3 separate regions of the Homo sapiens genome follow, and regions 2 and 3 are each linked to region 1. The links come from fine-mapping of genetic effects on gene expression. A gene starts in region 1. Each other region holds a variant in brackets. All regions are shown on one strand. Distances are between the middles of the regions.

The links. PIP is the estimated chance that this variant, and not a neighbour inherited with it, causes the effect.
Region 2: its variant is fine-mapped to the expression of RGCC in whole blood (TOPMed, PIP 0.97).
Region 3: its variant is fine-mapped to the expression of RGCC in esophagus mucosa (GTEx, PIP above 0.99).

The regions. Positions count from the first base shown.
Region 1 is chr13:41,454,266-41,462,445 of GRCh38, forward strand. It overlaps RGCC (regulator of cell cycle), which reads left to right and starts at 3,285. Exons shown (of 5, transcript NM_014059.3): 1 at 3,285-3,491; 2 at 4,020-4,205. The coding sequence starts at 3,443. RefSeq lists a silencer at 3,058-3,897 and enhancers at 3,471-4,148, 4,198-4,327, 7,575-7,674.
Region 2 is chr13:41,514,828-41,523,007 of GRCh38, forward strand. LOC105370174 (a long non-coding RNA gene) reads left to right here and starts at 2,341. Exons shown (of 3, transcript XR_941901.2): 1 at 2,341-2,464. RefSeq lists an enhancer at 6,177-6,346. The variant C/T (reference allele first, on the strand shown) is at 4,701.
Region 3 is chr13:41,544,036-41,552,215 of GRCh38, forward strand. The region is part of intron 1 of LOC105370174 (a long non-coding RNA gene); the gene reads left to right. LOC105370175 (a long non-coding RNA gene) reads right to left here and starts at 8,167. Exons shown (of 3, transcript XR_941904.3): 1 at 8,078-8,167; 2 at 4,980-5,207; 3 at 2,851-3,125. The variant G/A (reference allele first, on the strand shown) is at 3,807.

The sequences.
Region 1 (8,180 bases):
ATATCCCAGGGGGTGTATAGTATCCCGACCGGTGATAGACTCCGCCACGATGCGGGGAGTAATATCACGCCCCTCTCCTTCCCTGGCTATTACGATACACATCGCAGGGGGGCGGGCGACGCTCGCGACGCGGGGAGAAATATCAGCCCCTCCTGACATTACAAGCCACATGGCAGGGGATGGACACCCCCAGTGATGCGGGGAGTAATATCTACCCCCCCTTCCCCATGGATATTAGGAGCCACATCGAAGGCGTGTGGACAGCCCCCGCTGATGCGCAGAGTAATATCAACCTCCGTCCCTCCCTGCATGTTAGCAGCCACTGTGGACACACAGTGTATTTACGATATTTCCAGTAAGATTATCTTTTCTATTGAACCTTATGAACAAGATCACAGGGGGGTGTACACATCCTGCGATATTGGGGGTAATATCATTCTCTCCTCCACAGCATACTGGGAACAATATCACAGGGGCGTGTATTCCCCCTTTCTTATTGGGAGTCATATCATACTTGCCTTCCATATATTAAGAACAATATCAAAGGGGGGGGTGGACACTTTGACGATATTGGGAGTAACATCATTCTCTCTATCCCTGGATATTAGTAGCAATATCACAGGGGGATGTACATTTCTTGTGATATTGAGAGTAGTATTATTGTCTTCCCCACTGGATATTAAAAACAATACCACATGGGGTGTCAAACCACCTGCCAAATTTGAGGGAATCTTATCCTCTCCCCTGCACCCCCCGCGCCCCGGATATTACAGACAATAACACAGGGGTAATGTACACCCACTGCTTTATTGGGAGAAGCATCATCCTCTCCTCCCTTAGATATTAGGAACAATATCATGGGGAGGGGGTGTACTGCCTCGGCGATATTGGGAGGAAAATTATCCTCTCTTCCCCTGGATATTAGGAAGGGTATCAGAGGGGGGAGAGTGTACATTCCCTGTGATATTCAATGTAATCTTATCCTCTCCCTCCCAGGGTATTAAGAAAAATATTACAGGAGGGTGTACACCCCCTGCAATACTGAGAGTCATATCATCCTCTTTCGCTCTGGATATTAGGAACAATATCACAGGGTTGTGTACTCCCCCTGCGATATTGGGAGTAATATCATTCTCTCTCCCTGTGGATTTTAGGAAGAGTATTACAGGGCTGTGTACACCCCCTGCGCTATTGGGAGTAATATCATCCTCTCTCCCTCTGGATAGTAGGAAGAGTTTCATAGGGGTGTGTACACCCCCTGTGATATTGGGAGTAATATCATCCTGTCGCCCTGAGGAGAGAAGCCATTTCGCTACTGTCTCCTGTCTCTGAAGAGGAGGAGGAAGTAAAAGTTGGAAAACAACAGGAATGAAGTCAGTGTCAAGACCAGCCGGTGGCAATGAGGAGCCGGCCTGAGGTGAAACAATCAACCCCCGTGACTCTAAGTACATGTGCTCTCAATCCATCAAGACCCTTTCACGTGGAACCCCTTAAAGCTGTAAGCCCTTAAACGGGCCAGGAACTCTGTCTTCCTTCCGGGAGCTCGGCTCTTAAGACGCGAGTCTGCCGAAGCTCCCAGCGGAATAAAAAAAACTCTTCCTTCTTTAATCCGCTGTCTGAGGGGTTTTGTCCGCTGCTCATCCATGCTCCATTTCTTTGTTCCCTGACCGGGAATCGAACGCAGGCAGCAGCGGTGAGAGCACCGAATCCTAAGCACTAGACCACCAGGGGAACTTAGAACCTTGTGGGAAATAGATTGCGCACCATTAGAAGTGGGTTGGCCATCAGAAGGAAGCCTGGACAGGTCCCTTGTTTCTAAGGCGTGGCACAAGGTAACTGGTAAAGATACCTAGACCAGTTCCCATACATAGACACTTGGTGACAGCTGGTGCTAGAACCCCCACAGTGGCTGAGGGCATGCAGCAGCAATACTAGTAGCAAAGGGACAGATAGCTAAGGAAGGATCCCGCTCCACTCACCCAGGGAAATCAACTCCTGAAGTTCTGTTCGACCCCACATCAGAGGATCCATTGCAGGAGATGGCACCAGAGATCCCAGTGGTGTCCTCCCCTTAACAGGGAAAGAGGCTCCCCACTCTTGAGCCCACAGTGCTTGTGCCTCCACAAGACAAGCATATCCCTAGGCCACCCAGAGTAGACAAGAGAGGAGGACTATTCATATGATTAGTGGTCATTAACATATACTCCTTTGTGAGGTGTATGTTTCAATGTTTTGCTCATTTTTAATTTTTACCAGGTTGTCTATTTGTGATTACTTTGTAGATGGGTCTTTCTATATTCTGAAAACAAATCCTGGCTGGGTGCGGTGGCTCACGCCTGTAATCCCAGCACTTTGGGAGGCTGAGGTGGGCAGATCACCTGAGGTCGGGAGTTCGAGACCAGCCTGGCCAACATGGACAAACCCCGTCTCTGCTAAAAATACAAAAACTAGCTGGGAGTGGAGGCTGAATGTTTCACTCCGTTACATGTTAATTGCTCTACATTTAATTAGCCGTCTGTGGTGAGAGGCGAGAGGCTAGCGCCTAGCTCAGCGCACAGTCCAGGGCGTTCGCCCCCGCAGGCCGCGGGGCAGGGTGGCTCGTTACTCCGTGGACACTGCAAGGCGCCCTGTTCGCGCTGCGTCGACGCAGTAGTTTCTTCCCATAATAAACCCCTTCTAGATAAAGTCAGGCTGGCGGGAGCGCCCTGGACCGTAGTTCAGGCCCCCGCGCTCCGCGGTGGGAACAGTTCAGGACTCCCCCAACTCCTGCCCCTCTCGCCCCGACCCTCTCCACTCCGCCCGCCCACCATCTCGGAAGTCCCCTTGGGACAATGCGTAGGGGACCTCCGCGTCCCCGACACCCGACTGGGACACGGCCGCGGGCTCCTTCGTCCCTCACCGCCAGCCAGGGAGGCTCTGCATGCCCACGTCCACTTCACAGCCGAGGAAGCTGCGGCTCGCGGAGGTGCCTGGCACGCGGCGGGAAGCAGCAGAGCTCGCGCCCAGCAGTCAGCTCTGGTGACGCCGAGGACACCGCGTGGGCCGGGTTGTCAGGGCGCGGGGGCGAGAGGCGGGTAAATATTTGGGGCTGTAACCGGGGCTTCGGCGACTCCTCGTCACCGCGGTTCCAGGGCGGGCGCGTGGCGAGGGCGGTGCCTGGGGGCAGGGGCCTCCTCGGAGGGCGGCGGGGACAGACCCGTCGCCCCGGCTCCGCAGCCCCGCCCCGGCCCCGCCTCCGCTCCGGCCGCCGAAGGCTATAAGATCTAGGAACCCGAGCCGGTGGTAGGGCGGGCGCGGACCGTGCTGGGAGCGGCGCGGCTGGAGCGCAGCGCCGAAGGGACTGGCAGGGCTGAAGTGTGCGGGACAGCAAGCCCCCGAATAGCCCCGGCTGCCACCTCGCAGGACCCAAGGCCACGCGCGCCGGGCCCAGCTGAGCCGCCTCATGAAGCCGCCCGCGGCGCAGGGCAGCCCCGCGGCCGCCGCGGCCGCAGGTGAGTGCGGGGTCCGGGGTCCCCTTAAAGTCTCGGCTCTGCAGATGGCGGGTGAGAAAGGAGGGGCCCCGTGTCGTCCCTTCACACCCCCCACCCTTCCATCCTCCCCGGCGGGAACCTGTCCCCGGTCTTCCCGCGCGGGCGGCTGCAGCCTCCTTTCCGGCCCGGGCTGGCCCCCATGTCCCACCTTCCCTCCACCACCAGCTCCGCGCGCGCCCGGGGTTGGGGGGAGCGGCGGGGACAGGTAACCGGCAGCGCCTGGGGAGGAATCTGGCCGCGCCAAGTCGCTGGGTGACCCTGGGCCTGGCGAAGGCTCAGTTTTCTTGTCTGTAAAACGGACTTGGTAATAGAACGCACTTCGGGGGTGGTGGAGAAGATTACAAGGTAACAGCGACTGCGTGGCTGTCACTTGGCAGAGGCGCCAAGTGTCAGTTATCTTCGGGAACCGTGGCGGCCCCTCCTGGCCCTGGGAGGTGGTCCCGCTGCCCCCCTGACTTCCGTGCACTGAGCCCCTGGCCCTGCCCGCAGCCCCGGCCCTGGACTCGGCGGCCGCGGAGGACCTGTCGGACGCGCTGTGCGAGTTTGACGCGGTGCTGGCCGACTTCGCGTCGCCCTTCCACGAGCGCCACTTCCACTACGAGGAGCACCTGGAGCGCATGAAGCGGCGCAGCAGCGCCAGTGTCAGCGACAGCAGCGGCTTCAGCGACTCGGAGAGTAAGTGCGGCCCCCGCTAGGATGGCGCCGGGATCTCCCAGCTCCCAGGACCTGCCCCGCGAAGGCTGCGGCCTCAGTTTTCTTATCAGTAAACTGAGGAATGGTTTCCTGAAGCTCAACGCAGTAGGCCGAGTGGTGGCGGGGCCCCTGACGATAATCACGGGAAAGGTCGCTGGAGGGCAGGTTGGTTCACTTGCCGCCCACGGGTGTGTCACCAGGCAGGCGAGTTTAAGCAGCTTGTCCCGACTCAGCCAGACAGGACTCCCTGGACCTGCACCAGGCCTTTCCGCAGTTTCCCTCCTCTTCTCCTTTCCGTGCCTCTCCCCTCTCAGCTGTAACTTTGCAGATGTGGAACAAGTGCCAGTGGAATGAGGGGGCACAGTGGGGACATGGGAGGGCGCAGAACGGAAATATTCATGAAACCAGGAAAGGTTTCATAAGCCCAAACTGCTGTTCTTGGGATTTATGAAATAACTGCTTGCATTGTCTTCTGGCCCTTAGCTCTCAGACTTGTTGCTCCATTGCATGCAGTTATGAAAATCTTTGGCACTGCTGAGTTCAAGTATTTTTCAGCCAGGTCCTCCACCAGGCTGGAGGGGGAGCCAGAGAGCACATGGGCATGAAGGTGGTTCCTGGTGATCTTTCTCACAATGGAGACTACCCCAGGGTCTCTTTGTCCTGAACAACTTTGTCAACAACAGCAACAACAACAAAAACAACAAAAGAGACAGCTTTTTCCAGGAACTCACATGTCCTGGGAGGATTACAGGTACCTCAAACAGCAAATTAGGTGCCTTTTTAATATTACATGATTGTTGGTTTCAAATCCAGAATTGCTTATTGTTTTTCAAAGGGCAAAGTCAATTTTAAACTCTTCTGTGTTATTCTTCAGCCTTTAATCCTTAGATGGGTTACAGGCATGAATGTCACTCCTTTTGCTGCCCTTGACTCAGGACGTGAAAGTAATGGCCTTTCCGTGTGATTCTCTTATTTTGAAACCTGGAGCTCTTCCTTGTTCCTGGGCTAAGATTCGGGGCTAGACATGAACATGAGCTGCCCTTCTGCAAAGGGATAAATGCGCTCACCACCCTGGTCAGGGTTTGACTCAGGAAGCTGAGTTCCAGCTTGTTTCCTTGGCAGCACTGCCAAAGAGTTAGACCAAGCTGCAGCTTTTGAGGTGAAAGGGGATGGAAGAAAGTACTGTTACTTTTCCACTTAGAATTTTTGGACTTTGTTCTTAATGAATAGGTTCATTTTCAATTTCAAAGCAAAGTGTTAACATTTTTGAAATTTGTCTCAATTCTAAAGGCCAAACTTAAATATGTCTCCTCCTACTGGGGCATGGAGCAAGTTATTCATCAAATACAGATTCTCGCATGGAAAAGAAAGCTAGGATAGTGTGTCGCTGCTGCTCTGTGGCAAAGAACAGCTCCTTTCTAAGCAACAGCCTCACTCTACTAGAATAGGTCTGAGCGCGCCCATTCATGGCTGATTGCAACTTCCACTGGGTGGGATTTCAGATCTAGAATCTGTTTTCAGATGCCTTAAAGAGAAGACATAGAAACACATTCTTAACAGTTTCAGGGGAGATAGTTGGGATAGTTTGTAGTTTTGCTTAGGTTATATGTGTCTGTTTTCTGCTTTTGTTGTTAACGGACTAACCCTTAGTTTGGTGGTTAGAGAAGTGATGGGAAGAACATAAAGAAAGCTCAGATGACATTTGTCTTTGCTTTAAATGTGTAGTTTTTCTCTCACAAGGCTAGTCAGAAATATTGTTGGCAGAAGCTGTGTGTATCTAAATAGTAATTTCTTAAGGAAGCATAATATGTATATCTTAATTGCTGCCAAGAATTGAGTACAGACATTTGTTATCCTCGTTTGTCTGTTTAATGCTTTTCTATGGGAGAGAATGCTTAAGAGAGGTAGATACTACTGAAATTTAGCTCATCAAGAGGGAGACACACCAGGATAAGGATAATAACAGCAGCTCACTTTTAGCAAACGCTTGTTATGATGATGATGATGATTTATTAGCTGGAATGGGAACCATGTCTTCACGAATAGACTGAAGTCCTTTTGAGCCCAGATCACATGCCTGTTTGTCAATGATGGCTGTTTATGAAGGTGTCTCTTTGAGGTGGTGGTCATCTGGCAGGGTCAGTAGAGCTTAGATTGAGCCTTGTCAAGGCCCTGGGTGATGAGTGGGATTTAGTTTCTCTAGCTGTGAAATTGAAAGGATGCTATTTAATAGTGCTATTAGGGAGAAAATATTTGCTCTGTTGAATACTTTCAAAATATCATTACAATGTACATGCTGTGCTATACCATATAGATACATTGGAGCCAGTGTCTCGCATGAAAATATTTTGGATGAATATGTAAACCAATGTTACCTTTGTTTTTTGCTCTAGTTTTTACAGCTCTGTCTGAAGGTGCACCAACCTTACAAGGAAGATCAAACAGCAAGCCTGTTCTTTGAAGAATACTTCTTTATTATCATTAAAAAAAATTTAGGTTGCTTGCACCCAAAGGCAAAAAATAGCCATTCCTCGTACTGAAAGAAACAAGTTACTCAGATAGGAAAGAAGAACAGATATTTAATAAGGAAATATTCCTTCCTGTTCCCACTTTCAGGGAGGCCTCTTAAGACATGAAGAGGACCAAAATAACAATTGCAGTATAACTTCACATGGTGGGGTGGGGGGTGTGGAGTTCAAATGTGGTTGATCAAAATAGTGTTGTTACTTTCGTTTAGACTTGATTCCAACATGTAAAAAAATCAGGCACTTTAGTGGGAGTGATTTTAACTTCAGTAGTGAAAGGGCAATGCAATTAAGAGTTAGGGTAGTGTTTCTCAAACTTCATCCTCAGAGGTGCTTTAGAAATTGACTACCTTTGGTTTGAATTTATTTTTAGAAATATATCTTCTTTTCAGTATTTTTAAAACTGTAAAAGGTAAACCATGTTTTCTCAAATGTGTTAAATGGAATTTTAACTCATTATGTTTCAAGTTTTAACCAGTGTGTTGACTTTATAAGAAGTTTATAATATTAACTTAAACTTTAAAAGGTGGTATGCACTTATACCTTTAAGGTATTGGGGTTTCACATAATTTTTCCTTTGACGGGGGAGTGTTTTGCTGCTCAACAGAAAAGGTCTGAAGTCTACTGTGTATGCTAGGGTTATTATGATATTGTAGGACCATTTAGGAAATGAGGAACTGGCTTCTTTAGCATCAGCAAGACTTAGAACACCTGCATATCTTTGCTTAGGCTATTCTGGCCTGGCCCTGGGAGAGGGGACCTTGTGGGCCCTGGAGAACCAGCATGACAGATGGCTTATGTGGCTTAGAAGCCACTGAGGTAGAACCTGAACTTGTTCAAGCCATGAGAGAATAAGGCCAATGAGGAGCCTTCAGGGTTCCCTGGTACTGTGTTAGCAATTCTGCATGGGTAATGGATCTTGTGATGCTTGGCAAGGCATATAGAGGGACAGTGCGATCCCAGAAAGGGAGCTGGGACAACAGTGGAGAAGTTGAGGAAAGATGCTCTTTCTTATTTTGCCCCCCTTTGGCGAGGCTATCAGAATTTAGATTTTCAGGAGGAGAAGTCAACCCACACCCCCAGCCATTCCCTGTGGCAAAAGGGAGGTAGGTCCAAAGCTTTCTTTTTCTTGGTTAATTACTATAGTTTGCTTGCTTTAAACGTGTGGGATCGTTCTATATTTACAGGAGCCTTGGGTAAGGTTTACTGTCTGTGGTTTTACTTCCCCCTGGAGCAGCACGTTGACATGCGCTAACCCTAAATTACCTTTCTCCCAACCCCCCTAGCTAAAAAAACACACCTACCTTTTAAACAAGCCTCTATTTTGCAGCAGTGTTTCTCAGACTCTGTTAGTTGTATATTTCATATGCTTTTCTTTCTTTTGATGGTGCCTTAGAAAACACGGTCCCAGAATTTGAGGTTCCTGACTTCA
Region 2 (8,180 bases), 61 kb after region 1:
AATGGACTGTGAATGGAAAGGGAAAATGTCACAATTTGAATGCAATTCAAAGTAACATCAGAGAAAGGTCAGTGCCTTCGCATGAGACCTCTCTTTTCAAAGTAAACAAGTGGAGCATAAAAGCACTTTGGGAGGTTTCTTTTCTTTTTTTTTGTTTGAGACAGAGTCTGGCTCTGTTGCCCAGGCTAGAGTGCAGTGGCGCAATCACGGCTCACTGCAACCTCCACTTCCCAGGTTCAAGCGATTCTCCTGACTCAGCCTCCCAAGCAACTGAGACTACAGGTGCCCACCACCAAGCCCAGCTGTTTTTTGTATTTTCAGTAGAGACTGGGTTTTACCAGATTGGCCAGGCCGGACCTCAGGTGATCGGCACCTGATTCTCCAGTGGACACAGCTGGGGGGTGTCCTATAATTCAATTCTGGAGATGGTGTCAGATCCTGCAGCTTGAAGACTCAGTCCCACGGACTGCCCCCACTTCAGATGCCAATTACTAGTCCCAGGTGGTGACCTTTTGACAAATGGGCTATAAATTGGAGCTTGAGTTCAACTCCTGACCTCTGGTGATCCGCCCACTTAGGCCTCCCACAGTGCTGGGATTACAGGCGTGAGCCACCGTGCCCAGCCAGCACTTCAGGAGTTTTATGAGACCAGTGCCGCTGGCTCCTAGACTGACCTATTCGATTGTGGAGTGTCACCCCTGGACCCCACCCACAAGCCCTAAGAGCTTAAAAGTCTACGGGACAAGGTTGGTTCTGACATAACTCACGGTTAGCAGCTGGGTCCCTTGAAGGGGAGCAGGAAGTAAGGAAGTTTCAGTGGCCAAGTGCGGTGACCACCTGCCTGTGCCAGGCCCCAGTGACGGGGTGGAGGGGTCAGTGCACTGCACCCTGGGATGCCAGGTGGACACGGGTTCCTAGTCATGCTTTCACTCTCCCCTGGGCCTGTCGCAGGTGTGTTCTTTCCGAGCCTCCCCTCCTTCCTTTTGCCGTAACTCTGGCGATGGCCAACAGTGCGGGGAGGGCAGGATAACTGCAGCCAGGGTACCCAGCCAGGAGGAGCTGGGGACGCTAGGGTAGAACAGGTCTGGTGTGGGAACAGAAAGGACAAAGGCAGGGAGCAGCAGTAGTCAGCCAAACCACGAAGTGGCAGCAAGTCCTGGCCAGGTGGATGGGGCGGGGGCTGGCAGGAATGCCACGGTGGGTCAGGTAATGTGTACAAATGCCCAGGCAGGGACACCCATGGGGACTTCCTCTGGGAGCAGGTGAGGGGCTGGCCAGTAGTGGGGAAAGTGGGCTAGGTGGCTAAGGCACAGCCTAGGCAGCAGTCTGCTGGGTGACCTTGGGCAAAGGACTTAATCTCCTTGGGCCTCAGTTTCCTTGTCTGTCAAAAAGGATGGCCCTGTCCTTCCCCACATGCTTGGGCTTATGATGTGGATGAGGTGATGAGAATCTCAAGGGCCTGGGCTCCAGGCAGGTTGCCAACTCAATATAATATGATGAAGACCCAGTTCTCAGACTAAGATGCTGGGCGTGGCTTGCATCTGGAAAGTTCTAAGGTCAGAACTAGGCCTCAAGGTGGGGCTGAAAAGGCAGCAGAAGCTGTCGCAGAGGACCTGAGAGTCAGGCTGGCGCAGGGGTCCCCCAGGGGTGGGTGGAGATGGTTCTGCAAGGTGCTTAAGTGAGAAGCAAAATGAATGTTGAGAAATGCCTCATGACATAGCCCCTTCTTGGAGAGTTAGAAAGCATCGACCGTATTAGTAGTTTTGAGAACTCCTGCTGTTAAGACACCTCTTTAATCCCAGTGATTCTCATACCGACCTTTCCCCCTTTTCCAAATACCTGGGAACTATATACGCTAGAAACGTTTGGGTTTCAAATCTCTCAGAAGTCCTTCTTTCTCTCTTTGGGATTGGTCTTAGGGTGGGGGCTGTGGCAGAGGATTCTCCCCAGCCACAGGGATTGATGAAGGAACATAGCATAGGAACCTGGCCGGGCCTCATGCTATTTTATTTTTCTTTTTTAAGAGAATAAACTTTTGATTTTGGAATAGTCATTAATTTATGGGGAAGTTGTGGAGATAGCCCAGAGAGTTCTCTGTACCTTCATCCAGCTCCCCCTAATGTTAACGTCTCACACAACCAGAGCGCATTTGTCAAAGCTAAGAAATTAACACTGGCCCAGTATGGTTAACTCTCCACAGACTTTATTCAGAGTGTGCTTTATTCAGTTTTTCCACTCTGTCCTTTTTCTGTTCCAGGAACAAATCCAGGATATCACATTGCAGTTAGCTTGCTTTTCTTTTTCCTTCCGTATTCCTTTTACCCTCAGTCTGTTTGGTTGTTGTTGTTTTAGCTTCCTCCTCTCGTACTTCGTGTCTGAGGCCTGGAGAGCAAGGTGAGGGGGACGGTGAGGTGAGCACAGGAATCCTCTGCACCAGGACAGACACCGTGATGCCTTCTATGAGGTGAGTGGTGGCTGCAGGGAGAAGCCCGCATTGTGGCCAGATGGAGAGGGAGTTCGGGACACCATCACCAGTCATGAGCAGGCTGAGGAGGCTACAGGCCAACTGGCTGAGAGAGCAGACTCTGCATCTGGTGGGTAACTAAATGGGCTGGTGGAGAAATCCATGAAGCTTGAGGGGCCTGCCATGTCTACAGCTGCTTTCTGAGGAAAGTAGCCCCAATTGTTCGCCATCTCAATCACAGGTGCAGGTGGGGTTTGTTAGTGTCAGTACCTTAGCATGTTAGCAGAACCCAGCCCTGCTACCTGAGACCCAGATGGTTCCATCAGGCGTCACAATGTGGGTCAAGGCAATGGGCCAGGTGAGGGGGCACTCAGGCACCAGGGTGGCTTGGCAAGACTGCTGCTCAGAGGTGCCCCATGGTGATGGAAACAAGCCAGTCAATCCTAGCTCTCCCTACATGAAGGGCAGGCTGTGTAAGCTCCGGGACTATCTGCAGTACCAGGAAGAGACACTCCTGGGTCTCTCTGAAGCCCACTCCATGCACCAGTGGAGCAGACAATTTCGCACCTACCCACCATGGATTTATCCCCTTCTTTGCCAGCACAGCCCTGATTTAGTTCTGGTCTCTACCCTTTGCCCAACAGCCAAATGCTTCAGGAAGGCTGGCTTTGAGGGGCAAGTGCCAGTTGGTGTGCAAACTCATCAAAGAGCTCTGATACTGCCTGCCAGTAGTTGCTTTAAGCATGGACATGTGTATAATTCTGGCCAACAAGCCAGATGTGAGGGGAAGTCCCCTAGTGTGTAGGGGGCAGGAGAGAGGGATAGGTGTTCTGAGAAAGGTTTCCTCACTCTCAACAAGCGACACAAAGATGAAATGGCTCCTTTTCCTGAGTCTTGGCAATGGTATGCCCAGATGTGACACCTGGAACGTTGGTAGCCATCTTGTGACTGAGAGAGCAGTGAGATGAGCAGAAGGGAATGATGGGAAGAACCAAGGTCCTCTCCATGTCACTGAGTCACCCAAAAAAACCAAGCTTGGAGCCTGCTGCCTTTGGACTTCTTGTTGTGTGTAAGCCAGTTGATGTAGGCTTTTCTTGTAACTTGAGATCATGGAATCACCCACTACCAGATCTGTGACCTGAGGGACTGCACCCCATGAGGCTGTCCCAGTTCTCCCTCTTGGTCCTGTGAATTCATGCCTGAGATCTCTGGATTAGTTCCCTGTTAATCTGCCAATAATTTAGTGGTTTAAACCAATGCAAATTTATTCTTTTACCATTCTGGAGGTCAGAAGTTTAAAATCAAGGTGTTGGCAAGGCCACGTTCCTTCTGAAGTCTTCTGGAGAATCCTGTTTCTTGTCTATTCCAGCTTCTAGAGCCCCCCACCATTCTTTTCCCCTCTTGTAAGGACCCTTGTGATTCCACTGGGCTCACCTAGATCATCTAGGATCATCTTCTTATCTCAAGATCCGTAACACAATCCCATCTGCAAAGTCCCCTTTACCGTGTAAGGCAGCATATTCACAGGTTCTAGGGATTAGGGTATGGATATCTGAGGGAGGGAATTATTCAGCCTAACAGCCTCCCTCACCCAAAGTGATCCATGTGTCCCTCTCCTGGTTCTTTGGAGGCTGGTGGTTCCTGTGGCTTCCTCTCCATGGCACCACTTGCATGGACCCCAGCCTGACAGCCCACCTAGTGTTTCCCACCAATCAACTATGGAGGCTCTGCTTGGGCCTAGTGTCTATTCCTCGTGGGAGAGGAGAGCCTGGGGAAAGGGGGGGAGAGAGAGAGAGAGAGAGACTGTGGATACAGAATGAACTGTAGCTACTTCAAAGTGGAGAGAAATAGTGGCCTTGTGTTTTCTCAATAGCAGCGAAGCTGAAAAAGATGTCAGAGGTCTACCAGATGGTTTCAGTGAAGTTCAGTGTGTCCTTATGTACTCACTGCTTTGGGGATCCTCCTCAACATCAGAGTCCCTGCAACTCTGACTAGATCTGGGTGCATCTATCAGGGCATATGAGGATCAGAGTTGGACTTGAAAACCAATAGGCCACTGATCTGTCTCTCCTCCATTCTGGACATTGGCTAGATTTGTGTGGGTAGAATTCAGAGTTGCAGGGTCAGCTTTTGGGAGCTTTCCAGCCACTTTTCTCCTTTATGCCACATGCTGGGCTTCAGGCTGGGCCAAAGAGGCCCATATATGGAACCTGGATGCATTCTGCACACCACAGAC[C/T]GCATCTCTGTGTGACCTTCCGCGTTCTGCCTTTGCATTGGATGTGAAGTAGGGTCACCTTGACTGTAGAAGGAGGGGTTGGGGCCAGGCTCTAAAGCCCTGCAGCTCTCCAACATTACAGCTTGTGTATGGGACATTGAAGAGAAATTTTTGGTGTCAAAAACAATGAGGACAGAGCATTCTTGGGGCTTTCATCATCATCCCCAACTCCAGAAAGGGTTGTGGTGGAGATAGTGGACTGAGTTGGCTTTGGGTGACCATCTCCCACAGCCTGGCCTAGGATGTGTTGTTCTGGCCTCTGAGGCATCAGAGCACCTCATGATGGCTCCAACTTGCTCCCACCCCATCACCCCTGCCATCTGTTCCCATGGGTGGGAAGACGTCCTAGCTTTGGAGCAGGCCAGCCCCATCAGGAGAAGCCAATCCGTGATGCAAGAGATGATAAACAGAGCAACACAAATCTTGTTTGGAGAGTAAGCCACTCCTTAGAAAGCAGAGCTAAGACATCCTTTTGTTGTCTAGATTCTAGGGATGATAACTTCTCACTCTTCCCCTTGATGAGTCCTTAGAGAACTGTAAACTTCCAAAGAATGCTTTGTTTAATGGGTTGAAAGAGGAAGAACTGAAAGGAGGAAATGGGGGCCTTTGTCCTCTAAAGAGTAAGCAGTGTGGATGATGACATCAACGGCCAATGTGGACGTGTCACCAGCACTGGCACCAGCAGCCCTGAGTTGGCACAATCTGGCTTCATGTGAATTCTTCTGCCACATTGGGAGTCCCTCTTGCCCTCGCTTGGCCTCACTTTTCCTAGGGAGATTACAAAACCTATGTACTTACCTGAAGGAAGTTGTGTTACATCCATGGGATAAGACGCCGGACTAGAGGGCTCCTTGGAAAAGATGGCGGATCTGAGAACCCAGTGCTCACAGGAGTAGGTGAAGCAGTCTATTGCTGTGTAGCTCTTGCTGCCTCTGACCTCCAAAGTCAGCATGAGTCTCCTCAGCAGACCACATGTGTAATTAGCATAGGGAGGCTTCTGGGAAGGCACCAGGCTTCTCAGACATAGCCATACGTGAAGGAAAAGACCCACAATCTGGAGGCCCAGGGGATGGAGGAGGAGGCTCTTGGCATTGGGTTTGGGCATTTGTCAGGGTCGTGGTTAGAAATCCCTCCTGGGCTTGTCTGCTCAGCGGTTTTGGGTGTCTGTGCCAAGGGTGGCTGGGGGGCCCATCGAGGAGTCCCCAGATCTGCGGGGTCTGATTCATCCTGTGTCAGCCCAGGGCGATGACAGATTGGTCCGATTTGGGGCAGAGAATTGCAAACCAGTGTTAACGAGAGACAAGCCTCTCCTAGATGGCTTTGGGGAACTTCTCAGCATGTGCTCCTCCTAAGCTCTTTGTCTCCTTTCCCATACTCAGCAGCAAGGCAGCCCACAGGCTCCAAGCAGTCCCTGGGGAAGCGGGGTGGTGGTGAGGCAGAGATGGTTTTCTACGGAGCCAGGATACAGTGGGGAGCAGGCACGCACATCCTCATGGGGATGTTCCAGTTACTAGCTAGAAAGGTGGCCAATTTCTTGAGATCTGAAAGGTATCAGGGTTCAGAGTGTGACTACTGGGAGGCCATTCTGCCCACACTGGCCATTGGCCAGGGCTACTGGGTACTTGATATAGCCAAGAGAAGCAGACATTGGGGGTAAGATGGCATAAAGGAATCCCCTCGTTAGCCAAGAAAATGCAAGATCCTTTTATCAGTCAGGGTTTATAGCTGCAAGCAAAAGCAACTGCCCCTGGCTGGTGAAGCAGAGACATTTTATTAACAACAGTGGGCAGCTCATAGTGTCCCTTGAGCCCTGGGGCACGTGGATTGGAAGTCGCACAGCCAGGTAGAGCACCCTAACTTCTGCCACTGAACCCATCTGGGAAAGACATATTTGCTTTGCTACAGGGCCCACTGTCAACGCCCCAACCCTGGGTGCTGGCTGGAACAGAGCCCCTGTACCTAGAAACTGGATGTTCTGCCACCAAGATCATCACTGCCCATCACCAGAACACAAGTTGTGCAGGGAGACCTGCTGCTTCTTGTAAGGGACAGAGCCACGCCACTTACCTTGTCTACCTGCCACAGGGGCTGGAGAAGCCAGTGTCTGGCACTTTTGATTTCTATAGTGATGGGTGGGTCTCACTGTGGGGGCACAAACATAGAAGGCAATACAGGTTTTTGGTGACTAAACAGATGACAGTTGTCCCCTACAAGGCATTAGGTTATAGGAACTGACTACAGGGCATCTGACTCTGCTCCTCCTTGGAAATGGCCTTCTTTTGATGCTAGTGTACCAGCCTCACCTCTGCTGAGGGTGGTGGACACTTAAGCTCAGTCATCTGTTCCTGAATATCAGATGTTCTGTGTAAAAATGCCAACCAGTAAACAATTCCTGCATTTAAGTTTTATTTTTTCAGCTTTATCGAAGTATAATTGTTTAGATTATAGATTCAATATAAAAAATTGAATCTATACAATAAAATTCAGGGTGTACAATGTGATGATTTGATGTACATATACATTGTGAAATGATAGCCACAATCAAATCAGTTAACTCATTCATCACCTTAGTTACTCTGTGTGTGTGTGTGTGTGTGTGTGTGTGTGTGTGTGTGGTGAAAACATTTAAGGTCTACTCAGCAAATTTCAAGTAAAGAATTACAGTATTATTAACTATAGAGTTAATAATACTGGTGTTTTGTATTATTAACTCTATAGTTAATAATACTTGCTGTGCATTGGGATCTGATGTTCCTGTTAGTATAGTTTCCTGTTATTATAAATGGAAAAGGTTATAAGGCACACATCCACCAATCAACTTCCCAAATGTGATTAGATGTGTTGAAACATCTATATAGGTAATAAACTACCACATTAGGATGTAAAATACTAGGCTGGGCAGCTTAGCTCATGCCTATAATTCCAGCACTTTGGGAGGTTGAGGCAGGCAGGTCACTTGAGGTCAGGAGTTCGAGACCAGCCTGGCCAACATGGTGAAATCCCATCACTACCAAAAATACAAAAATTAGCCAGGCGTGGTGGTGCACGCCTGTCTCCCAGCTACTTGGGAGGCTGAGGCAGGAGAATCGCTTGAACCCAGGAGACAGAGGTTGCAGTGAGCCAAGATTGAGCCACTGCACTCCAGCCTGGGCGATAGAGTGAGACTCTGTCAAAAAAAAAAAAAAAAAGGGGATGTAAAATACTTAAAACATAGCTTAAAACACTATAGTTGTTAAGGCCTACTTTGTAAGAAGTGACACCGTGATGCCTGTCAGTGCCAACAACTTGGGAAAACCTCATCCCCTTTGCTGAGGTTCACCATGCTTTATACAACCTTCTACATGCAGTTCTGGCATTCTGTTAAGTGTAATTGTAATGTTTCTCAAGACTTTATAGATATATTTGTTTAAAATGTAGGGTGTTATGTTTTAGGGATATAAA
Region 3 (8,180 bases), 90 kb after region 1:
CATCTTAAGCTGCTCACCCCACCCTGGCTATCCCAAGGAGACTCCAACAAAGGCCGTGGTCCAAGCTCATCCTGCACCCCTGCGTTCTGCCTCCTGACCAACACTGGTGCTTCCCCTGTGGTCCTGCTTGGTATGTGGTGACCCCCTTTCTGGAGCCTGTGAGTGTAATGGACTTCATTGTCCTGCGCCTCTCTTGCATCTCCTCTTGTGGCTGTACCTGACCTGACCATTGCTTGAAAGGACAGAGCAGGGAGGCTGAAAACATCTTCGCTGTTTGCCTCGGGCTCATACCTGTTCCCCTTGGGTGTCCTTTTCTCTTTCTCCAGCCCCAGGTTGATGAGTGACCCATTCATGATTTGTGTCCTGTGCTGGGCAACTTGATCCTCCCGCTTCCTGGGAAGGTGATGGTGGTTATGTCACCATAGTGGAGATGTGGCAGCAAACAGATTCTCACAAATGTGAATCATTCTTGGCATAACTTTGATGTCACATAATAATAATAATGATAAAAAGTCCCCTTTCCCACCAGAGGTGAGATATAAAAAGCAAAACTTGAGTGAGGATGGAATAACCTATCCTGCCATGGTATAGTTTTTGCTTAAGCAAAGTTCTGTTGAATGAAGACTTGTTTGCTTCTTGGTTCTTAACTGGGTCTCAGACTATGCATGTATGCATGAGAGACGGAGAGAACTAGACACACACACACACACACACACACACACACACACACACACACACCTGTCCACACAGATGGCATCACCATTAAAGTCAGGCAATAGGACCCTTGCCTGGGTTCCCTTTTTGAGAAAGGTGCTCCGTCTCTCCTTTGACTGTGCCCTAAACCACATTATGAGGAAGCTGAAGGGCCAAGGAGATGCACTCATAGGAAACCATGCTTGCCCTGCTAGGCCACATTCTGGGCATTGGGGTCCTGAAACACTGTGCTCGGGGGGGCCCTGAGCCTGCTTCCAGAGCTTGCATGGGCTTCTCTCCTGGGCTTGTCCTGAAGGGAACTCCTCATTGTTGGTGTGTGCACCCTAGATCCAGTGGGGCCAAGGGCAGCTGCTGCGGCAGAAGGGGATGGGAGAGGAACATGCGAGAGAAGCAGCAGGCTGGCAAGGTGAGGAGGGCTGAAGGCTCATACCTACATCTGCAACCTCCCCTGGGCCACATGTACTGGTATGCCAGGGATACAGGGCAGTGTGCCCCTGCCTGCCTCGCCACATGACTTTCTTAGAGCAGTTGTTCAACAGGAGCCCTGATTCTGAGGATATTTTCCCACTAGACTCTCTCATTATTGAGTACTTTCCTGCCCAGGGGCCCATCCTCCCAGCACTTGGATTCCAATGTGGTTTGTGGGAATGATTCATGTGGCGCCTAATAATGGAGAAAGCCGTGGTTTATGGTTTAGTTTTGTCTGTCAGGTAAAGGTGGAGATAGTGACACACAGGAAAAAGTTCTCACCAAAGTCTCCAAAGGACACTGGGCCAAGGCCCCTCTCTGCATCTCATCTTCACATGGAGGAGGGGGTGGCCCTGCAAGCCATGGGGACCAAGCAGTGCCTCGTGCTCTTCCCAGGTGAGTGTCAGGAGGGCTGGGGATCAGTGGCCGCAGCAGCAACCCCCATGCTCCCTTTCTGGTCCCTTCACACGTCCATCTTTTTTCAGCTGTTGACCATGATTGATGTGTTGGACTATGTTTTTTTGGTTGTGCCCCTGGATGGTTGGTTTTTTGAGATGTGGGGTCAGTCTCTTAATCTCACTTGTCTAACAAGAAGATCCAAACAAAGACCTTCTCCTTCTGGGTTCAAATGGGACGTCTATTCAATGCACACTCTGCCCCTCTGACATGCAGTTTCCCTCCCACGTGGGGAGCTCCAGCCCGAATCACTGACCCCACTTCCTCTGACCACACGCTCCCTGACTGCCAGTGTTCCCTGCCTCTGTTCGCCAGGCTCCACACTCCAGGCTGGAGGCCTTGGCTTCCCCCTCGGCTCCCTGCACCATTGAGCCAGTGGCAGCAAGTAGCTTCATCAGCTTTATTGGTGGAGGATCCAGGGGAAGGCTGTTTAACTCCCAGGCCAAGCTCTTTCCTCCTCTCCTCTTAGGCAAAGATCTGGGGCACTAGCTGGCCACACATGGGTGATGCTGCCTAAGTCACTTCTTGAAGCACTGGGTTAGACTGGTCCTTCCTGTCTACCTGGACCTTAGGACTCTTCCCCAGCAGGATGGGGTTAGAGGGCCCAGCGTGACCGAAGCATTGGGAGGGCAGGAACAAGTTAGTGGTGTTTGCCTCTCCCTAAGGCCTGGCTTACACTTGGAGAGGACCAGCCTTTGACCCTGCACAGCAGGCTGGGGTTCTGCAAACAGCCCCGACCCCAAGATGGATGTTCAGTGTGTATCTGCCCCCAAACTCCCACAGGCCTCAGAAAACCGAGGGCTGCCTCTGGGGGAGCAGGCTTTGGGCATTCCTGGGGCTGTCCCTCCGCTCTGCCACTTAACAACCGTGTGGCTGTGGTTGAGTGACTCAGCTCTCTCTGTAAAGCAGGGATGGAATGAGTCCTTTGAATCAGCATGGGGAAGATCCAGTGAGCTTCTATATGCCCAGCGCATCACAAGGTCTTGGGAATTAGTGGTTAGTACTGTTGTTGCTGCCATTCATCCATCCCTCTTGCAATTGTTAGTTTACTTTCTGTCTTCCCCAGAAGCTCCTCTCTCCATATCTGTGCCGTCCGCTTCTCTGACCCCAGAACCCAGTGTCAATACATATGGCTGGATAGATGGTTGAATAAATGAATGAATGAATGAATGAATTTATTGTTATGGAGATTAAATGAGACGCCACAAAAGCTCCAGGAACAGAATGACTTTTTATCTGGAGAAGGCAAGGGGACAGGCCACAGGCAGCCCGCATTGAGGCAGGCCCAGGGAGACACATGAGGCCTGGGTTGCAGCATCACAGCACAGCGCGGGAGAGCCCAGTGCTGCTGTGGTGAAGGTGTCCAGGTGGGTCACCTTTGCTGGTGGCTCTTTACTTCCGACTTCTGTGTGTACTCACCTTCCCAGACCCTTGGCCTCCCTGGGAGAGCTGCCCTCCTGGACCTGAGCAGTGGGTGACAGCCGCACCTGTCCACAGGGAAAATGTTGTCGATTTTCTGTCAGTGTGAACTCTCACATTTACATTTTTGCCAAGCTGAAAATAACAGTAACATAAACACGCCTCCATGGCCCTGTCCTCTCTGAAGGGAGAGGAGAAAAAAGTGCAGCCCACTCCAGAAAACAATGTTCCCTCTGTTAGCAGACACGGGCTTCTGTTTAAGTCCCCAGGGCCCCCACGGCTGCAGTGGAATGAGCTGGGCCCGGCCTGCTGGGTGTACCGGCTGCCTGGGCAGCCCCTCCCGAGGCCAGCCTTGTTTACGACCGTGGGAGAGGGGGCCGCTCCCAGCCCAGCTAGGCACCCGTGAGGCACTGACCAGCCAGCCCTGTGGGAACCCAGGGCCCTGAATGCCTCCCCTGTGCAGAAGGGTCAGTGCTTTCCAACCCTCTGCCCTGTGCACTGTGGTCAAGGGCACATCATGTCCCCAAGCACAGAGTGTGCTCAGGGTCCTATTCTTCACAACAGCCTTCCTTTCACTGCCTGCTCAGCAAGCAGAAAAGGTTAACATTTCCATCTTCCGTCCTAAGGAGATGCCTGCTGGGACTTGGTCTCAGGCATGAGTCTTTTCTTCCTCCTTCCTGGGAGGGGTTGGAACTAAGCCTCAAAGCAGAGTAGCTGACAACGTGGCGTGGGAGAGGCTTGGATGTGTC[G/A]CTGGAGAGAAACATTCTTGCCACCCCCACCCTAAAGAGGCTGCGGGGACAGGCAGCCCAGCCCTCCTGGCCTATTTTCGGGCTGGAGAGAGGTTCAGTCTCAGGCACAGTTTTGGGAGGCAGATCAGCCTCCCTGTTCCGGCCTCCCACTCCCATGGAGCTCTCTGCTGCCTCTTCCAAGGGGCCGCAGATACCCGTTCCTTGCTCTATTTCTTCACCAGCCCTACCTGTTCTCAGTCCATTACCTCATGGCCCTGCTCTCTGCTTACTAAAGTGACAATTCGTCTATAAGGAAGCCCTTGCACTGTAGCTGAGGATTCGCGAGGCTGCACCCTCAGCAGGCACTGTGGCCACACAGCACTGGCCTGAGATCTGAGTTCCTGGAGCCTCGGCCCTGAGGCCCATGGTGAGTATCTCTGTAGCTACTCAGCCAGCCTGCCTTGGCCTGGTGATCAATAACCTGGGACCTTTCCCCCAGCACCAGCATCTGTGAGCTCAAGGAAGACATCTGAACTTCTTGATAGCAGGGCAGGGCCAAACCATCTACTGAAATCATCAGCAAAAGTGAGGGGAATGCAGGACTGGTCGCTCCAGAAACTTCTAACTTTTTAGCTAGATGTAAATCATCGCACAGCTTTTGCTGCAATGTGGACATTGTGAAGGGTGTTTTGCCTCTTTTAGGGGTGCAATAAAAAAGGAAAAATAATGGAATGAGAAAAAAATCCAAAAAATGGATAAAAATCTTTGGTCAAGTCCTGTAAAACTATGATCTTAGTTCTCAGAGTCTATGGGAAACACATCACAGTGGGTCGACTTATTTCTGTCTCCAACCCTAGAGACCATCTCGTGTAAAAAAAAAAAATTTTGTAAAACAAGAAGAGTTAGTCTTATTATTCAGTATACCACAATTACTTGCTTAGTTTTCATTTTGTTGAGCTGCTTCTGGTTTAAATATAATATATATATTTGAAGTCTTAATAGCCATTGTGATCACAAAACTGCTGGCAAGTTTTATCAAAACCCTTAAGACAGGCAAACGTGAGGCTCTTAAAGAGAAAATCCTCAGTCGCCCCCTCATTTCTAATTTATCTAGCACAGTCAGTAAACATGTCTTTCAGAGGGAACTGAAGACAATTAGAAATAAATCAAGATACAAATGAATTCAATACTTACTGTTGTATAGATCAGCAGCTGTCAACCAAAGGGTAGCTTTGCCTCCCAGGGGCCATTTGGCAATGTCTGCAGACATTTTTGATTGTCGCAGCTTGGAGAAGAAAGGCTGCCGCTAGCATTCGGCGGTACAGACTAGGAAGTCTACAATGCTCAGAATGGCCTCCCACAACAAAGAATTGTCTGGCTTGAAATTCCATAGTGTCAAGGTTAGAAATGCTGGTATAGAAACTATGAGAGACACAAAACGGCATAAAGGCATAATTACTGCGTTTTAGGAATTTGCAAGCTAACTTGTTTTCAAAATGCTACATAATGAAAACAGACTTTAATTTCTCGTATTTATTTCCCTTGCTCTGGTCCCTGTTTGAGATGTATGGGAAAGCCAGGAGTCCCGCGATGCTTCTGAGTGAGGCATTCTGGGTAGCGCCAAGAAGGGCAGTACAGGGACATTGGTGCATGGGCCACGGGCAGATGGCCCTTGCTGGGCTCAGCTGTTCACTGGAATGTGCACTATTCTTGGGGTGACAGTGAATGACTAAGCCATTTTACCTTCAGGGGGTCTGCAGCTCTGAGGCCACCCAAGGACACCAAAACCAGGCCAGGAAGCTCTAGTGGGGAAGGTGATGAGAGGGGGGGCGTCGGTGCACAGAGCGGCACCGTGGCTGCGTCCAAGTCCAGTCGGGTTTTGGAATCTTGTCCTGCGTGTCTGTTTGTGATTCTCTCACTCTCCTCTGGCTTCTGGACCTACCATGTTCTATGGAGCATCCAAAACTGGGGAGCTGACACCTCAGGGCCAGCCCTGCACTCTCATTTCTGGCGTATACCACAGTGGGCCTTACTTGGGAGGCATTCGGGGCAGGGCCCAGCACAGACGAGATTCTCAGAATGTGTGGACGATGGCACTGTAGTTGAAGAGGGGAGTCCTCGCTTCTAGAGCTCCACGCCTGAATATTTACAATGAAATGATGTGATAGCCGGGATTTACTTCAGAGTAACCTGGAGTGCAGAGACAGAGGCTAGGCGATGGGAAACGAGAATGGCCATGAGCCTTGGGGATGGCCCATGGGGGTCTGATCTACATCTGTCTCTGCTTTCGCATGCATTTGAAATTGTTCATAAAAATATCTGTTAAACCATACTTGTCCCTCCAAGGCCAAGGCATGGTATAGGGGCCAAGGTGAGTGAAGAGGCCCCGGTTCTCTTTTGGAGAGAATTACTTGGTTTGGAATGAGAGTTTTTAATATCTCCCTGTTGATCTGGAAGAGTGGGGCTCCTGTCACGGGTGGGTAGGGGACCCAGTGCCAGTGGTTAGGGGAGGCTGGAGGCTGGCTGGGTCCATCAGGATGTGCTGGTGAGGACGCGGCTCGGGCCATCCCCTCAGAGCTGCCCTGAAGCAGGAGGCCTTGCAGGGGTTTGAGGAGGCCGAGTCTGCACTCAAGAGGTTGCAAGAACCAAGCTGCCCTGATGCCGGGGATGGGCCCCAGGCTGAAAGCCTGAGCACAAGCCAGGCCTGAAGGGCACTGAGCGGCCAGAGCTGACGGCACTTCTGAGGGGCTGAATCAGAGTCAGTCCCAGGAGAGGGAAGAGGATGAAAGGAATCAGGAGGGCTTGTTTGTGCTTTAAGCCTGTCCACAAGAACCAGGAGATGGGCTCCTGGGATTTCACAATTCGAGGTCCGTCTGGTGCCTCCTGCATCCTCTGCACTTGCACATTGTGTGACATATGAAAGTCGGAAGTGACCTGAAGACACGTGCACCACAAGGGATGCTGTGGAGACGCCCTACAGGGACTCTGATGTGGGGGGCATTTCCGATTTCTGGGGCCTGGCTTTTAGATGAAGGCAGCAGAAAGTTACCTAAAGACAGCAATGGAGAGGTCTTTAGTGATCCACTGCTGTGTAATAAACCACCCCGAACTTAATGGCTTGTAACAGCAAGCATATATTCCCTGCCATGTTTCCGCAGGTTGACTAGGCTCAGCTGGGCAGTTCTTGGCTGGTCTCACTTGGGGTCTCTTGGGAGGTTGCAGGCAGAATGCGCCTGGGCTGGAGTCCTCTGGTCGCTCTCCCAGGGTCCCAGAACAGCTGCCTGTCTACGTGGTCTCAAGGCCTTCGCTCCCTATATGGCCTTTCTATGCAGTGTCTCCATGCAGACTTTCTGGTGAAGGGAGCTGGGGGCTTCTCACATGGAGGCTCGGGGCTCCTCAAAGTGCAGAACCAGAAGCCTTCTTAACACTTAGCCAGAAGCTGGCCCAGTGTCACTTCTTCCTCCTTCCTTTGGTTGAGCTGTTGTGGCCAGCTCAGGTCCAGGGTAGGGAAGTAAATTCTTGATGGGAGAATGACAAGGAATTGTGGCCATCATTAATCCACCATAGGGACCCAGTCTGGAGCCTGCACAGAAGTGGGGAAGCTGCGGCCGTGTTAGGTGATGCCGTCTTGTAGACGCGGGAGATGCCAGAACCGCTATCCCTGGCTCCTTCTCTGTGTCCTCGCTGACTTGAACAAGCAATGGGTCATTGTAACATCTTCAGATGCCTCTTGGCTTCATGTCATCAGCTATAAAGTGGCATCACAGTGATATCTCTCTGGGGCCAGCCCTGGGTCCACCTGCCAACCACCTCCCTGTGCACAGTTCTTGGAAGTCATTCATTCACCTGACCAGACGCTGAAGCCAGACCCGTCCCCACCCACTGAGGCCACCTCCGTAAGGTCAGGTTGTGGCCATGTGCTGGGTCATTTCACTCCCTTCTGGGCTCACAGGAAGGAAGGAGGTCTTTGCAGGGGCAAATGGAGCACCACCTCATGTCTGCTGCACCTGCTCACATCCTCTAGCTCCTCCTCCCAGCAAACCTGCCTCAAGGGCACACAGAGTCCTGGTGGAGTCAAGACTCGAGTCCAGGTCCTCATACAGCAATGCCTTGTCTTCCCTGCAGGCTCCCAGGGGCAGGCAGGTGGGAGATGGGTGCACAGGGAGTGCCATCGTCCCCACACCCAGACTCCTCAGGGATTCTCTTTCCTCAGTTACAAAGAGTGCTGGCTCTGCTAGCCAGGACAGATGTTAGCAATTTTCAAGGAGCAAACATTTCTCATTTCATCTTACCTTAATCAAGTTACTTGGGCCCTATCCACAAAAGTGTCTGAGGAACAGATGACTGAAGAAGGGTGACAGCTGCTGCTGGCCTGGTGGGGGCCTCTGTGCAGTG